Regions from separate parts of the Homo sapiens genome. Here region 1 is linked to region 2. The links come from fine-mapping of genetic effects on gene expression. Tissue or cell type: thyroid. Region 2 holds a variant in brackets; the other region holds the start of a gene. All regions are shown on one strand. Distances are from middle to middle.

Region 1 (8,197 bases), 35 kb before region 2:
AGTCTGAGACCCAGGAGAGCTGAAGATGTGGTTCCAGTCTGAGTCTGAAGCCTGAGACCCAGCAGAGCTGAAGACATGGTTCCAGTCTGAGTCTGAAGCCTGAGACCCAGGAGAGCTGAAGATGTGGTTTCAGTCTGTCTGAAGCCTGAGACCCGGGAGAGCTGAAGACGTAGTTCCAGTCTGAGTCTGAAGCCTGAGACCCAGGAGAGCTGAAGATGTGGTTTCAGTCTGTCTGAAGGCTGAGACCCAGGAGAGCTGATGGTGTGGTTCCAGTCTGAGTCTGAAGCCTGAGACCCAGGAGAGCTGAAGATGTGGTTTCAGTCTGTCTGAAGCTTGAGACCCAGGGGAGCTGAAGATGTAGTTCCAGTCTGAGTCTGAAGCCTGAGACCCAGGAGAGGTGAAGACGTGGTTTCAGTCTGAGTCAAGGCCTGAGAACCAGGAGAGCTGCTGGTGAAAGTTCTAGTGCAAGGGCAGAAGACCAATGTCCTACCTAGCTCAACAGTCAGGCAGGCAGAAGTTCCCTGTTTCTCAGCCTTTTTGTTCTATTCTGTTCTTCAGTTGGTTGGATGAGGCCCCTGCACATTAAGGAGGGCCATCTGCTTTTCATGGTCTACTGATTCATGTGTTTATCTCCCAGAAACACCCTCACAAACACACCCAGAATAATGTTCGACCAATGAATGTTGGGTACTTTGTGGCCAAGTCAAGTTGACACATAAAATTAAACATCACAGGGACTTAAAAACATGTCCTTTCCCCTTTCCAAACTTATACCCAGGGAGGAAAGCATACAGCAGGGTGAGATGGGGGATCCAGGATGCCACAAATCAAATAATTTTAAGAAGGAGGACAAAAACCAAAAAGAAGTAGATTTTTTTTTGAGACAGTTTCACTCTTGTTGTCCAGGCTGGAGTGCAATGGTGCTATCTCGGCTCACTGCAACCTCCACCTCCTGGGTTCAAGCGATTCTCCTGCCTCAGCCTCTCAAGTAGCTGGAATTACAGGTATGCGCCAGCATGCCCAGCTAATTTTGTATTTTTAGTCGAGATAGGGTTTCACCATGTTAGTCAGGCTGGTCTCAAACTCCCAACCTCAGCTGATCCGCCCGCCTCAGCCTCCCAAAGTGTTGGGATTATAGGCGTGAGCCACTGCACCCAGCCAATTGTTTTTTCTCTAAAGACTCCAAGACCACTGTTTTAGTCTGCTTACAACTGCCATCACTAAATACCACAGACTGGGTGGCTTAAACAGCAGAAATAAATTTTCTCACAATTCTGGAGGCTGGAAGTCCAATGTCAAGATGTTGGCAGAGTTGGTTTCTCCTGATGCCTCTCTCCTTGGCATGCAGATGGCCGCCTTCTCGGTGTGTCGTCACGTGGCCTTTTCTCCGTGTCTGCACCCTCCTCGTGTCTCTTCCTCTTCAACACCAGTCTTTCTGGATTAGGGTCATATCCTTGGGACCTCATTTAATCATAATCACCTCCTTAAAGACCCTATTTCTGACTACAGTCACACTGGGGATTAGGCTTTAACACATGAATTTTGGGGAAACACAGTTCAGTCCATAACAGCCAACCTATTTTATCTCCCTGGAACCCAGAGATGCTATAGTTAGCATTTATGGTGTAGTCATAGCTCCCTCCAGCCCAAATTTTCATAAAGGGGAAAGATGAGGTGGTTCAAGAGCCTTGTCATAATGAAAGGCAATTCAGGGCCACCGTCATTACTAGTATCATCATCATCACCATCATCATCATCTTTATCCCAACACCTTAAGAACCCGTTCATGATTTATGTGGTGGTTCACAAAGAGAACTCGAAAAGTGAATTTATTCAGCTATGTTTACTGAGCTCACCTGATGCACTCAACTAGCTATTTTTGGTAGGGAGGGCACTAAGATGAATAACACAACCCCTTCCTTTAAGGTGTTGCTGTTTTGTAGAGTGTTTAGACACACACACACACACACACACACACACACACACACACCCCTATACTCCAAACTAGAAAGTGATAAATACGGCTGGGCACGGTGACTCACGCCTGTAATTCCAGCACTTTGGGAGGCCGAGGCAGGTGGATCACGAGGTCAGGAGTTCGAGACCAGCCTGAACAACATGGTGAAACCCTGTCTCTACTAAAGATACATATTAGCCGGGCATGGTGGCGCCTGCCTGTAATCCCAGCTACTCAGGAGGCTGAGGCAGGAGAATCGCTTGAACCCAGGAGGCGAGGTTGCAGTGAGCTCAGATCGCACCACTGCACTCCAGCCTGGGCAACAGAGCGAGACTTTGTCTCAAAAAAAAAAAAAAAAGAAAAAGAAAGTGATAAATACTATGGGGCTGGGCGCGATGGCTCACGCCTGTAATCCCAGCACTTTGGGAGGCCAAGATGGGTGGATCACAAGGTCAGGAGATTGAGACCATCCTGGGTAACACGGTGAAACCCCGTCTCTACTAAAAATACAAAAAATTAGCCGAGCGTGGTGGCACGCGCCTGTAGTCCCAGCTACTCGGGAGGCTGAGGCAGGAGAATCACTTGAACCCGGGAGGCGGAGGTTGCAGTGAGCCTAGATCACACCACCGCACTCCAGCCTGGGCGACAGAGCAAGACTCCATCAAAAAAAATAAAAAATAAAAGAAATGCTATGGAAGAAGTAATAGAATATGCTATGGGAGAGTTTGGAAGAGAAATACACATAGAGTTATACTAATAACCAAAATCCTTTATTGACCATTTATCATGTGCTTGGCACAATTAGCTTAATCCTGAGTCTTAATTGTCAGGATCTTACATTATAAGATAGACAAAAATTCAACGCATGCTTTACTAAGTACCGTTTGTATCAGTGGGTAAAGCACTGTGTTTGGTACTCTCTCAAATGCAAAGATGATTACGACACATGTACTATCGTTTATGAATGGGTGGCCAACAGAACAGATTGCCGCATAGGTAAGCAGAAATCTGCTCTCATTCTCTATTGGCCACAAGCAGGCATGTCTTAGGAGCAGAAGGGTAGGAAGATCTCTAACTGTGCTTGGAAACTTGGGGAGTTACCACGTCTGGCTAAAGTGGTATTGTCTTAAGGAAAACCTATGAATTTGCCTGCGTTGGCTTGGTGCTGAGGAAAGTGGAAGAGAGAGGCTGGGGTACACCTTTCAACATGAATGGAACTGACCACTGGAGGGAAAGAACAAGAAACAGCAGTGAGAACAAGGAACAAAGACCATCCAGCCCCTCACCCACCTGGGGGGAAGTGAGGGGAGATGGGCAGGGTGACAACGTGGCCAACATCTAAAGTGTGAAGAGGGGCTTTTACCAAGTGCCCACCCCTTCCCGAGCAGGGGGCAACCAACAGCATCTGGCGGGTCTTACTACTGGGCAGAGGCAGGGGAACCCTGGTATGAGTTCTGGATTACATAGGAGATGTGACTTGGACACGTTTGGGGCTTAAAAGTAGGAAGGGATCAAGGGGGGAGATTTGAAAATCCCGGTGGAGGTGCGAGGTATCCGGGGAGAGGGTAAAAACGGGAACAGTCTTCAGCACCTGCCTGTACCAGGAGCTCTGTGTATGCCATCTCATTTCCGTCTCCAGCAACCAGGCGGGCCTTGGCGGCAGGAGGCACAGGCTTTGGGAGCAGAGGCCCTGCAGCTTGCCAAGCACACACGGCCCTAGGGCGCCCAGCTGAGACGGCACCTTGGCACCCGGGCCCGCTGCAGCCCGCTCCGGTCAGCTGCACCCCAGTCAGGAGCCTTTCCAGCGGGTCGGAGGAGAACGGAAGTTTGGGGAGACCCGCGCGATTCGCCTGGCTGCATTTTACATTTCTTTCTCCGGCAGCTGGGGTCACGAAGGCTGCTCTCGCCGGCGGTGTTGGAACGTGGACACGTGCGCTTTGGTAATAGGGCAGCCTCCCCCGCGGGCGCAGTCCCCGCTGCGAGCGCCCCCGGCTGCTGAGGCGGGACCGAGGACCCGGAGATTTGAGCCGCGGGTGGGCGGGGAGGGGCCTTTGTGACCTGCCCGCCCCTCCCCGGCACTGTGATGCCGGGGGGCAGCTGCGGGCCCGGCGCGCCTGTCCCCGGCGTCCCCCCCTCCCGGTGTGTCACAACGGCGGAGGCGGCTGTATCTGGAGCAGTCGGGGCGGGCAGGCCCAGCTGAGAGGTGCGCGGGCGAGGACAGCGGCAGCGATGGTGAGGCTTCCCGGGGCCAGGCGGGCTGCGGGCGCGCGGCAGGCGTAGGACCGAGAGCCGAGTCTACGCGGAGGCGCACGGACCCGTCTTCCTGGAGCCGCAGGGCTCAAGGCCTTCTGGGGGTGGCAGTTCAGGGTCGAGGAGTCCGCACCCTCGGGCGGGAACACCCGGTGCCCTTTATCGTATGGGGGAAATAGAGACCAGGGGCCAGTTGTTCCTTAAAGGGACCTAAGGGAGCTTTGCGTGCAGACGAGGGGGAGGGAGGCCCTGGGGAGCCCGACGGAGAAGGGGGCGAGATTCTGGGGTCCCCAGATGGGCAGCCTGTGGACAGAGTGGAGAGAAGGGCGAGTCCGGGGATTCTGGATGGGTGGTCTGGGCCGGGGCGACTGGGGGGCCAGATGCAGTCACGTCTCCGAACCCAGCCTAATGTGACAGGGCCCGGAATGTGACAGAGGACCTAGGGCGCCACGGTCCCCCCACGCGTGGAGGTCTTTCTCGCAAGCCTGGCCAGCGGCTTGGGTTTGCTGCACGCACAGCCCCAGCGCGGCGGGGTCCTCCGGGCGCACTCAGCAGCTCCCAAGTCTTTCCAGCGGTCAGAGTCGAAGGACTTTGGGAGTAAGAAGTCTCTGCTTCCAAAGGCCAGGGGACCTTCGACCTGTTTCCTACCCTGGCTTAGGGGGATCGCGGCTGCTCCCTTCCCTGCCCCCGCCCCTGGATCTTACTGAGGGGCGGCTGCAAACACTCAGTTCCTCTTTCTAGGGTCCCCCTCTCCGCCCCCAGTGCCCCTGGTGGTTAACATTTGCCCCCAGTCCACTTTCCCAAAGCCCAGAATCCCAGGAATCCCTCCTGGACCCCTGATCTTTCAGCAGTAGGGAGATGGGCTGGAAAGATTGGGGGCAGAGTGAGGGCAGAATAAGCCTATGTCATGGCCAAGGTCGGGTTCCCTGGGCAGGCTTGCTCCAGGTGTCAGTGATCCAGAAAGCAGGCGAGAACCCCCTCCGCCCCGCCCTGTTACGTTTGGCCCGTGCCCAGGGCCTCCTGGCTCCCCCGGAGCTCTAGCCTTCCAGCTTCAGTTTTGTCAGCACCCTCCCTCCTCCTAGCGGGCTCCCAGACACCCCTGGGAACTGAAAGAACTTGGGAATATTAGGGAGGGTGGCCACAGGAACCTATTTCTGCCTGAGGACCCTGGTATGAGGCCACACAAAGGGCCCGGAGCTGCCAGTTCAGAATTTTGACTCCTGGCTCTGCAGCTAGCTGTGTGACTTCAGGAAGGTCACTTAACCTCTCTGGATGTGTTTGTTTTACCTGCGAAATGAAGAGGGTTATAATTCAAATTTCCAAGACTCCACTTAGATTTCATTATTTTTAAACTTTTTATGGTAGGGAATTTCAAACATATGCAAACGGAGAGCAAATGGTATAATTAGCGATTATATACATCATCTAAGTTCAATAATTACCAACTTCTGACCTGTCTCACTTCATTTATTCCCTCCCTCCATAATTTTGAAGCAAATGCTAGGCTGCATACTCTAGAATTGATATTTAATATTTATAATATCTAGCAGGTAGCTAGTGTTTTAGGATTTTCCAAGTGCTTCCCTTGCATGCTTTAATTTGGATCTGAATGCCATTGTGGTACAGAGTGGAGCCCAGAGGATGTTTACAGGGGCGTGTCGAGGATCTTAACCCAGCCCTGTGCACAAGCTTGAATGTGTGATCCACAGACGTGTTTCTGACAATGCCTGGTAAATCAACAATTCAAACAGCAAAACTTTATTTTGAACGTGCTTAAGAATTTGGGTGTTTAGCTGAAAACCTATGGTTAAATATTTTGAAATGCGACCACCTTTCATTTATTTTGAAACACTCAATTTTGTCTAGTAGGTTCTATCTAGAACATTTAACTTGTGTGCGTTGCACTGTCTTGATGGCTAATATTTTTTGTTGAACATTTTACACTCACAGAAACTTTTAAAATATCATTTGGCTCATTTGTAAAAGGCTAAAATGACACATCTATAAACCTAGACCCCTAGAATCTCACCCTTACAAAAATGACTGTATTTCTTCTAAGGATTAAGTTTCAGGCTGCTGTCCTGTCCCCTTCACTTCCCTCCCTGGTGGGGGTTTGGGGGAGGTGACCTTGGTGTTAAGGAGAATTCGATTTGGAATTTCTGTAGGCTCTGGGCAAGAAAAGTGTAACTAATCCTTAAGTGTATTTTTAAATGCATTTCTCTAGCTGCTAGGCAGATGAGCATTTTTCCTCTGTGAACTTACCCCCAACCCCTTCTCCCCAGCTACCCACTGCACGGTACCACCAATACCCTTTAGCATTTCTGTCCTGGAGCCTAAAGTGACACAGCTGGTAAGAAGCTGCGTAGGGGCTGGAGTTTACATCTGCTGGGCACCAGAGCCTCTGTCCTGAGCCACCTGCCCGTGCTGGGACCGGCAGGCTACTCCCACAGCAGACCATTCCCATCCATTCCCAGTGTTCTAGCACGCAGCTCTCTGGGAACTCAGACTATGACACCTTTTTTGGGAAGTGGTATGGAGAATCCTGGCCAGGTGCCCTAAGCCAAGCCCATGCCAATGATACCAGGGCACAGAGAAGTTTTCTGTGGTTTATGGGGAGGTGGGAACATCTGCAACACGGCTTCTTTAACTCCATTCCGTTAGGACTGGAGAGCACGAAGGAGCCCGTCTCCCTGCAAAAATGGGCAGTTAGAGGGTTCTGGGGGCCAAATGGACACCCTTCTGCCTGCAGCCTTCTGCAGTCTCCCCATGTAGACAGGCATGGCCAAGCTCTGTGGAGTTGATAGGTGTATTCTGACCTCAGAGCACTGTGTGGGCTCCCAGGGGCTGCAGGTCACTGCTGCCTCCTCCTCCCCTCCCATCACAAAAGGCAGGTTTCCCGAGAAGCACTGGGCGCATGCCTCCGAGTGAGGGGCCTTGGCTCACAGGGCAGCGGCTGGGGCAGAGCTGCTGGATTGGTGAGTCCATTGGGAGCCCCCAGCCTTGGGTCAGGCCCATACAGAGCTTGGGGTGGGGGTTAATGCCACTGTTGAATGTGCTTTCTCCTAGTGACCTTCAAAGGGAGATGAAAGTTAAAAATAATTTTGGTGGGGGAAATAGCTGGTGGATAGCGGGCCAGTGATGGGGGTGGGCAGGAGGATGTGGCACTGTCGGGGGGAGGAAGCAGACCAAATGCTCCTTTTCCCTCAAGCCGCAAGGGACGGACAGCACTATCTGTGGCCTTTGTGGTTGGCATTTCCCCTGCAGTGTCTTCCTGTTAGGAGTTCTCTCAGATAATAAGCTGCAGAAGAGAGCAGGAGATGGAGCAGGCACTGTGTGCATCGGATTGAAACTCCTAAGTGTCTCTTGCACCTGCCCCAGTGCCAGCCACAGCCCAGGCCTTCAACGCCCTCCGGCCTCTTATGCTGGAAGTCTCCTTAGCAGATGGCCTCATGGCCAGAGCTGGCCTCCTGTGAGCTCTGTTGCTGCCCTAACTGCAGTGCCTATCATCTGAGCCCCTCTCGCGAGCCACCTTCACTCGCTAAAGTGAATTTAGGCCGACTTTGTTTTTGCTGTGTCTGGCTTGCTATCTATTCTTTGTTATGAGTGATCTCAAATATGCCCTATGATCGAAGAGTTCTGAGCAGAGAGAATTCAGCAGCCCTTCAGGAGCCACATCTGTCCTTACTTTAATTACCCCTCTGTGACACTGTGGGCCTGCTTTTCACTTGCCATCCCTGACCTAGGTCCTAAGATATATGTGATCTATTTTATCCCAGCCTGACAACTAGAGATAATTCGGTGTAATCACATGCTTCCTGACAGCAACTGGGGCATGAGAGCACAGGTGGTCAGGGAGTGTGGGTGGTGCCAGGCTTTCACAGGGCACACACTGTGGTCCACGTCGGCCCCTCTCCCAGATGATATGCCACTTTTACTGTCTTGTGATACTTGGAAATAGTATCACAAGACAGCCTTTTTAAGGCTTCAAAG
Region 2 (8,197 bases):
ACGCTTCTTTACAGCAAAGGAAATAACAGGGAAGGGACAACCTACAGAATGGGAAAATATTTGCGAACTTGCATCTGACAAAGGATTAGTTACCTATATATAAACTGTATAAGAACCTCAAATAACTCAATAGTAAGGAAACAATCTGATTAAAAATGGGCAAATGGGCCGGGTGTGGTGGCTCAGGCATGTAATCCCAGCACTCTGGGAGGCTGAGGCGGGCGGATCACGAGGTCAGGAGATCGATACCATCCTAGCTAACACGGTGAAACCCCATCTCTACTAAAAATACAAAAAATTAGCCGGGTGTGGTGGTGGTCGCCTGTAGTTGCAGCTACTCGGGAGGCTGAGGCAGGAGAATGGCGTGAACCAGGAGGCAGAGGTTGCAGTGAGCCGAGACGTCCCACTGCACTCCAGCCTGGGTGACAGAGCAAGACTCCATCTCAAAAACAAAACAAAACAAAAATAGGGCAAATAATCTGAAAAAGATTTTCATTTTCTCAAAAGAAGACATACTAATGGCCATCAGGTATATAAGTAAATGCTCAACATCACTAAGCATCAGAGAAATGCAACTGAAACCACATTAATAGGTATCATCTCACCTCAGTTAAAATGGCTATTATCAAAAGACAGAAAATAACAAATTTTGGGGAGGATGTGGAGAAAAGGAAACCCTCGTACACTGTTGGTGGAAATGAAAATTCGTACAACCATTGTGGAAAACAGTATGGAGGTTTCTCAAAAAATTGAAACTAGAACTACCATATGATCTAGCAATCCCACTGCTGGGTATACACCCAAAAGAAAGCAAATCAGTATATTGAAGAGATATCTGCACTCCCATGTTTACTGCAGGACTAGTCACAATAGCCAAGATATGGAATCAATCCAAGTGTCCATCAACAGATGAATGGATAAAAAACATGCTAGATAAGGCCGGGCGCGGTGGCTCACGCCTGTAATCCCAGCACTTTGGGAGGCCGAGGCAGGCGAATCATGAGGTCAGGAGATCGAGACCATCCTGGCTAACACGGTGAAAACCTGTCTCTACTAAAAATACAAAAAATTAGCCGGGCGTGGTGGCGGGTGCCTGTAGTCCCAGCTACTCGGGAGGCTGAGGCAGGAGAATGGCGTGAACCCGGGAGGCGGAGCTTGCAGTGAGCCAAGATCACGCTACTGCACTCCAGCCTGGGTGACAGAGCGAGACTTTGTCTCAAAAAAAAAAAAATGTACTACATATACACAGTGGAATACTATTTAGTCATAAAAAGAATGAAATCCCGTCGGTTGTAGCAACATGGATGAAACCAGAGGACATTACGTTAAGTGAAATAAGCTAGGCACAGAAAGATACATATCCCACCTTCTCACTCCTATGTGGGAGCTAAAAACGTTGATTTCAGGGAGGTGGAGAGTAGAATGATGACTACCAGAGGCTGGCAAGCAATAGGAGGGAGGGAAGGATGAAAAGTGTTGGTTATGGGTACAAAGATAGTTAGATAGAGGGAATGATAGTACTGTACAGTGATAATAGTTAACAATAATTTATTGTATATTTCAAAATAGCTAGAAGAGAAGATTTGGAATGTTCCCAGTACAAAGAAATAATAAACGTTTGAGGTGATGAATACCTTCATTACCCTGATTTGATCATTGCACATTGTATGCATGTATCAAAGTATCACATGTAACACATAAATATGTACAATTACTATGTATCTATAAAAATAAGAAACAAAGGAAAACAGTTGCTGTATAAACAATACTGGGATAACTGTCAAAATTTAAATATTGAATATATTATATATGGGAAAATTGTACGGATATGAAATTATCTGAATTTGGTAATAATTGCACTGGGGTTATGTATGAAAACATCTTTGATCCTATGAGGTTCATATTGAATTATTTAGAGCTGAAGAATGTCAATCTCTTCAATTTACTCTCAAGTAGTCCAGCAAAAGAAAAAAAGTGATTGTGTAAATATATACACATATATACTGTGTACTCACACATACACATAGATGTGTGTGTATGAGAGAGAAAATTAGTGAAGGAAGGCTCACTAGGTTGTTATAATATTTGTATAACTTTTCTTTATGTTTAACATTTCTTTTCTAATATAAAATATTTAATTTTGAATGGTTCTCCATTAAGGCAACAAATTGCCAGAGGATAGGGAGTGCCTGGGAAAGGTGACAGATGCCAAGTCACATTCTGTTTGAGTTGCACCCTGAAACCCATGCCAGGAAAATGAAATGTGGAGTTCTGTTTGACTGCTTCCACTCAACAGCTCCCTCTCCTCAGGAGAATGCATGTTCCCAAAACAATACTGAGAGGGAGGTTCAATGTTTAATTCATCTTAAAAATTATTTTTTATATTTGGAAGCATGCAAAACACAGTAAAATTTACAATAAAAAGCATCCTGACAAAATGCAGAGAAGAAAATAGGCAGGAGAAAGTTGTGGAAAGGGACTGAGCAGAGGTCACATGAAACCACGCGTTTGTAGAGAATGTGTTTTGTAAAGGAGTACTACTTTTTCAGACATCGGTTCTGTTTTCTTTTTTTAAAAAAAATCACTTGCTTTTTTTTTTTTGAGACAGACTCTTGCTCTGTCGCCAGACTGGAGAGCAGTGGAGCGATCTCGGTTCACTGCAACCTCCGCCTCCCAGGTTCAAGCGATTCTCCTGCCTCAGCCTCCCGAGTAGCTGGTTCTACAGGTGCACACACCACCATATCTAGCTAATTTTTGTATTTTTAGTAGAGACGAGGTTTCACTATGTTGGCCAGGATGGTCTCGATCTCTTGACCTCACGATCCACCTGCCTCGGCCTCCCAAAGTGCTGGGATTACAGGCGTGAGCCATCATGCCCGGCCACATCACTTCCCCTTATCCCATGCAACAAACCCTGTCCTTTCCCCAGGACAAAAATTCTTGTCAGTTTCTATAAATTGTTCCTCACGTTGGGCAAATAGCTTTTTTCTAAATAGCTTTCCATTTTGAGGGGAACTAGATTATCGCATTAAAGTTAGCCAACATCTTCCTCTGTGACCAGGTTTTTAGACAGAATTTTAAAGTGAGGTAGGTAGGTGTGGCCTTTTGCCTCATACTTCTTTATTTTATTTTTTTTTAAAGGGAAAAAGAGTAAGAAATTCAGATGATGAGAATTCCAGGGACACTGAAAGTATCCCAAATTGGCAGAAATACTGTGTAAACTACAGAAAATGCTTCTCAGGGCCCACACTTTCTTTTGAAACAAATATTACACAATTTCATTATAAACTCTTTCGCGCATGATTTTGAGAAATCTTTCCACCAATGCTTTCAAAAAGCACAATCTGTCTTAATAAAAAACTACTACCTGGTACTATTATTTTACATTTTAAAATTGTGAAACAGTATTAAGCCTACAGAAAAGTTGCAAGTATAGTCCAAAGAACTTCCTTCTTGAACTATTTGAGAGTCAGTTTTCCACGTGACATTGCATTTCTCCCAAATCCCCGCCTGTGAAGTTACTACCACCTAATCCTCAGACCCCATTCAAGCTTCACCCGTTGTGCCAATATTGTCCTTTACAGCCAAAGGATCCAGTTGGGGATCTCCTGTTCATCTATGACCTCTTTGGTCTCTGCCAGTCTGGAGCCGTTCCTCAAAGCTGTCTTTGATTTTCATGAATCGTTTGAAGATGGCAGACCAGCTGATCTGCAGAATGCCCCTCGATTTGGGTTGGCCAGGACCCGCGTCCTGGCGAAGGGGTTCCGGTTACTGACCTTCGATGGGAACAGCACAGAAGTGATACCGCGCTGGCTCCACTCTGTCCTCTGGTGGCACGCAATTCCAGTGTTCCCCGCACTGATGACTTTCTTGTACCGAATATTTACATTAATTACATTCTTTATAGTTATAATGTAATATTACATATGAGACCATGGGGTTCATCTGATTAGGTCTGCCCAATTTAGCCTGCCCTGCTTGCTTTGGGTCACTTGCTTTTGTTATTTTTTTTCTGTGAAGCTGAAGGCCGCGCCACTGAGCGCTGTAACTTAACCTTGCCGGCTTCCTTACAGATAACATGTATGTCACTACTGTCATGATCGTTCAAATTGTTTTTCAGGAACTTGGGGCAGCTCCTGCCTAGTTCAAACCAGTTGAGACCGTGAGCTTTCAAGTAGGCTTGTGCAAACAAAAGAAGTGGCCTTTTGACATCAGAGGCCCCAAGCGACACCCTCAGATCACGCTAAGGCTGTCATTTTTTGAACATGTGCCCTGTGAAGTGCCACGAACCCTGACTATGCTTGCAGTGGTCACCGACTGCCTCATTTTCCCCCACTGCCAATCACCTTTGCCCATACCTTACACCACCCTGCTTCTCTCACCGGTAAATATCCCTAAGACTTATCTTTGGGGAGGAAGATTTGAGAGCTGTTCTCCTGCCTCCTCACTGGGCTGCCTTGCGAATAAATCTTTTCTCTTTTACAAAACCTGTCACAGTGATGGATTTATGGCATGCGGGCAGAATGAACCTGTATCACATGTATGTAATAATGGTAATTAATAATATGTATTTTGTGGGAGAGTACTTTGAAACTGTGTAAATATCCTGTTTCTCATCAAACTTTTAATTTATTCAGTATCTACTTTTATTGGTATGAAGTGTGGCTTCCCATTTTATTTAACAGGTCGAAATGTTACTATCATCATTTCAGGCCAGGCGCGGTGGCTCATGCCTGTAATCCCAGCACTTTGGGAGGCCGAGGCAGGAGGATCACAAGGTCAGGAGATCGAGACCATCCTGGCTAACACGGTGAAACCCCGTCTCTACTAAAAATACAAAAAATTAGCTGGGCGTGGTGGCGGGTGCCTGTAGTCCCAGCTACTCGGGAGGCTGAGGCAGGAGAATGGTGTGAACCCAGGAGGCGGAGCTTGCAGTGAGCCAAGATAGTGCCACTGCACTCCAGCCTGGGC[A/G]ACAGAGCGAGACTCCGTCTCAAAAACAAAAACAAAACAAAACAAATCATCATTTCTTTTAATGCTCAAGTTGTTCCAAATTTGGCCAGTGGGAGCATGGTCTTGGAGCTGGCTTCTGCATCGTTTTGAAACATCCCCATCATTCTTGGAGCATTCCCTTACTTGCTGGCAGAACAAGATGTCCTAGGCTCATCTTGTACTTTCTCTGCCTTAACCCCAGAAACAGCCATTTCTCCAAGCAACATTGGTTCCTTTTACTAGAGAATGGGAATTAGAAACCAAGATCTGGGTGCAAGATGTACTGTTGGGGTGTCACTGTTCCCAGGCCCCCTACAGACCAAGTCAGGGGATGTATGCATGTATACACATGTTTACCTCCACATGTACTTCTTTTTTTTTTTTTTTTTTTTTTTTTTTTTGGATAGGGGATCTCGCTGTGTCGCCAGGCTGGAGTGCAATGATGCAATCTTGGCTCACTGCAACCTCTGCCTCCCGGGTTCAAATGATTATCCTGCCTCAGCCTTCCGAGTAGCTGGGACTACAGGCGTGTGCCACCACACCCAGCTAATTTTTTGTATTTTTAGTAAAGACGGGGTTTCACCGTGTTAGCCACGGTGGTCTCAATCTCCTGACCTCGTGATCCACCCGCCTTGTACTTCTTTATCTATCTGTGTATACATACTGAAAATCATGGATCCACACTGCTAAGTCCAATTCCAGTTCAACACTAGTGGGCTCATTCTCCCTTTCCTTATTTGTAACTCCTATCTCTGAGAGTTTCAACTCTGGCTCCAATTATCCTTAATACATTCAGTTACCTGGTCATCCCCCTGTATGTAACTAATCTGTCATCTCCACCAGCACCCTGCCCTCCCTGGACACCACACACTGGGCCACTCCAATACCGGGATGTGCCACATCTTCAAATTGCTTGGGCTGTGACCCTGGGCCGGGCTGCACCAGCACCCATTTGTGTCTGACATTGTGCTGGGCAGCCCCACTGTGCTGCCACCCTCCTCAACCTGCTCCAGTCCAGCACCCTGCTTGGGCCACTGTGGAACATACTACACAAACGCCCACTTTGCTTGACACACCTGATGGCCTTAGCACGGAATTGTTCAGGAGGGTACCATGAAGGACGGAAGGAAGAGCCCCATAGAAGTGTAATGGATCCTTACATTATATAGTCCAGCCTCCAACCCAAGGTTCACCCTTGTCCATTCTGCACTGGGGCAGCAACACCAATTACTTTGCTCCACCGACCTACCAAGATTCAGATAGAATCATTGGATTGACTATTAATAGTTTTCTGCTGATAGTTGCTGCAAGCAACTGCAGCTTGCTCCTTAGCCTTCTACTGACTTGCTGTATTTAGCATATTTTATCAAATTTTGCAACCTCCTCTCCTCATTGCCCTCACTTGAGTTTTTGAGGTTCCTGTTTGTGGACAAGACTTACCAGATGTATGAAGCTGGTTATATAACTGATTGGTCAGCAAATATAATGAGGACGGACCCTGCGCCCACCACCGTGTACCTGTGTAAACACCATACTGCGCAAAGTCCACCAGCCTTCCAGGGAGAACATGCTGCACTGTGGGCGACACTGCCTCCGTTCCAGCAGCAATGTAAGCGGAGTCTGGGCTGACGATGGACGTGTGGATAGCCTGTATGTGTATATCTGTGCTCATGCTTCTAACACACATCCACCCTATTATGGACACGTTTATACATCTTCATGCCATGGTATTTTGTACCTTACTGCAGACCCTACCAACGCTTCAGTGAGGTTCTGGCAGCTTTGGGTTTTTGGAGGCTATTTGTCTGTTGCTGCGGGGACGGCTTTCAGAAAGAATGATCGCTTTGGGGGAATTGTACCCTGCTTTCCTGCGCAAATTCCAGCGGCTGGAGTTTGAGGCCCCTAGCAGATAACCCTTCTGCCCCTACCCCCATGAGTCTACATACAAGAAATACATCTCTAAAGAGGTAATAAGCCTTTCCGGTGTGCATGTTACAGATCTCTTAACCTTATATATACACAGATGGTCCATCACTTACCGTGGTTTCACTTACGATGTTTCGACTTCATGATGGGTTCACTGGGACTTGACCCCATTTTTTTTTTTTTTTTTTAGACGGAGTCTTGCTCTTGTCGATCTCTGCTCACTGCAACCTCCGCTTCTTGGGTTCAAGTTATTCTCCTGCCTCAGCCTCTTAAGTAGCTGGGATTAAGCGCCACCACGCCGAGCTAATTTTTGTACTTTTAGTAGAGATGGGGTTTCACTATGTTGGTCAGGCTGGTCTCGAACTCCTGACCTCAGGTGATCCGCCTGCCTCAGCATCCCAAAGTGCTGGGATTACAGGTGTGAGCCACCGCGCCCCCTGACCCCTTCTTAAGTGGAGAAATATCTGTATCTGCATGCCCACAGGGGAGCTCCTAATTACACCATGTGCCGCATCCAAGCCACAGGCCGGTGATGTGAAGACACCCGATCCAAGAAATACAATAGCATTAAGAAAGAAAAAATGCTGCCATGGATACTACCAAACGCCAAATGACTCTAACACGTAGGCTAATTGCAAGGACCTTAAAATCGCAAATAAAAAGGCGCCTGTAGGTCGGGCGCGGTGGCCCACACCTGTAATCCCAGCACTTTAGGAGGCGGGCGGATCACCTGAGACCAGCCTGGCCAGCATGGCGGAACCCCATCGCTACTAAAATACAAAAATTAGCCAGGAGTGGTGGCGCATGCCTGTAATCCCAGCTACTCCGGAGCCTGAGGCAGGAGAATCGCTTGAACCCAGGAGGCGGAGTTTGCAGTGAACCGAGACAGCGCAACCGCACTCCAGCCTGGACGACAGAATGAGACTCCGTCTCAAAAAAAAAAAAAAAAAAAAAAAGCGAGGGCTGGAAGTCTGGAGCAGGTGCGCGGCTGCAACGGCAGCCGCGGGAAGCTCGGGCCGGCAGGGTTTCCCCGCACGCTGGCGCCCAGCTCCCGGCGCGGAGGCCGCTGTAAGTTTCGCTTTCCATTCAGTGGAAAACGAAAGCTGGGCGGGGTGCCACGAGCGCGGGGCCAGACCAAGGCGGGCCCGGAGCGGAACTTCGGTCCCAGCTCGGTCCCCGGCTCAGTCCCGACGTGGAACTCAGCAGCGGAGGCTGGACGCTTGCATGGCGCTTGAGGCAAGTTCGGGGCTCATTTTGGAAGTTTTCTTTCTAGCACAGACAT

Direction of the effects. Alleles are on the strand shown, and positions count from the first base shown. SD is a standard deviation of normalised expression in the study named.
As copies of A replace G in region 2, the expression in thyroid of the gene that starts at base 4,130 in region 1 goes up (moderate effect, 0.74 SD a copy in GTEx).

Evidence for each region. PIP is the estimated chance that this variant, and not a neighbour inherited with it, causes the effect.
Region 1: TUBA8 starts here. The variant in region 2 is fine-mapped to the expression of TUBA8 in thyroid (GTEx, PIP above 0.99).

What each region holds. Positions count from the first base shown.
Region 1 is chr22:18,106,680-18,114,876 of GRCh38, forward strand. It overlaps TUBA8 (tubulin alpha 8), which reads left to right and starts at 4,130. Exons shown (of 5, transcript NM_018943.3): 1 at 4,130-4,189. The coding sequence starts at 4,187. RefSeq lists an enhancer at 3,627-3,826 and a silencer at 3,907-4,296.
Region 2 is chr22:18,142,072-18,150,268 of GRCh38, forward strand. It overlaps USP18 (ubiquitin specific peptidase 18), which reads left to right and starts at 8,099. Exons shown (of 11, transcript NM_017414.4): 1 at 8,099-8,151. It overlaps LOC124905076 (a long non-coding RNA gene), which reads right to left and starts at 7,143. Exons shown (of 2, transcript XR_007067999.1): 1 at 7,029-7,143; 2 at 1,532-3,869. RefSeq lists an enhancer at 7,840-8,159. The variant A/G (reference allele first, on the strand shown) is at 4,972.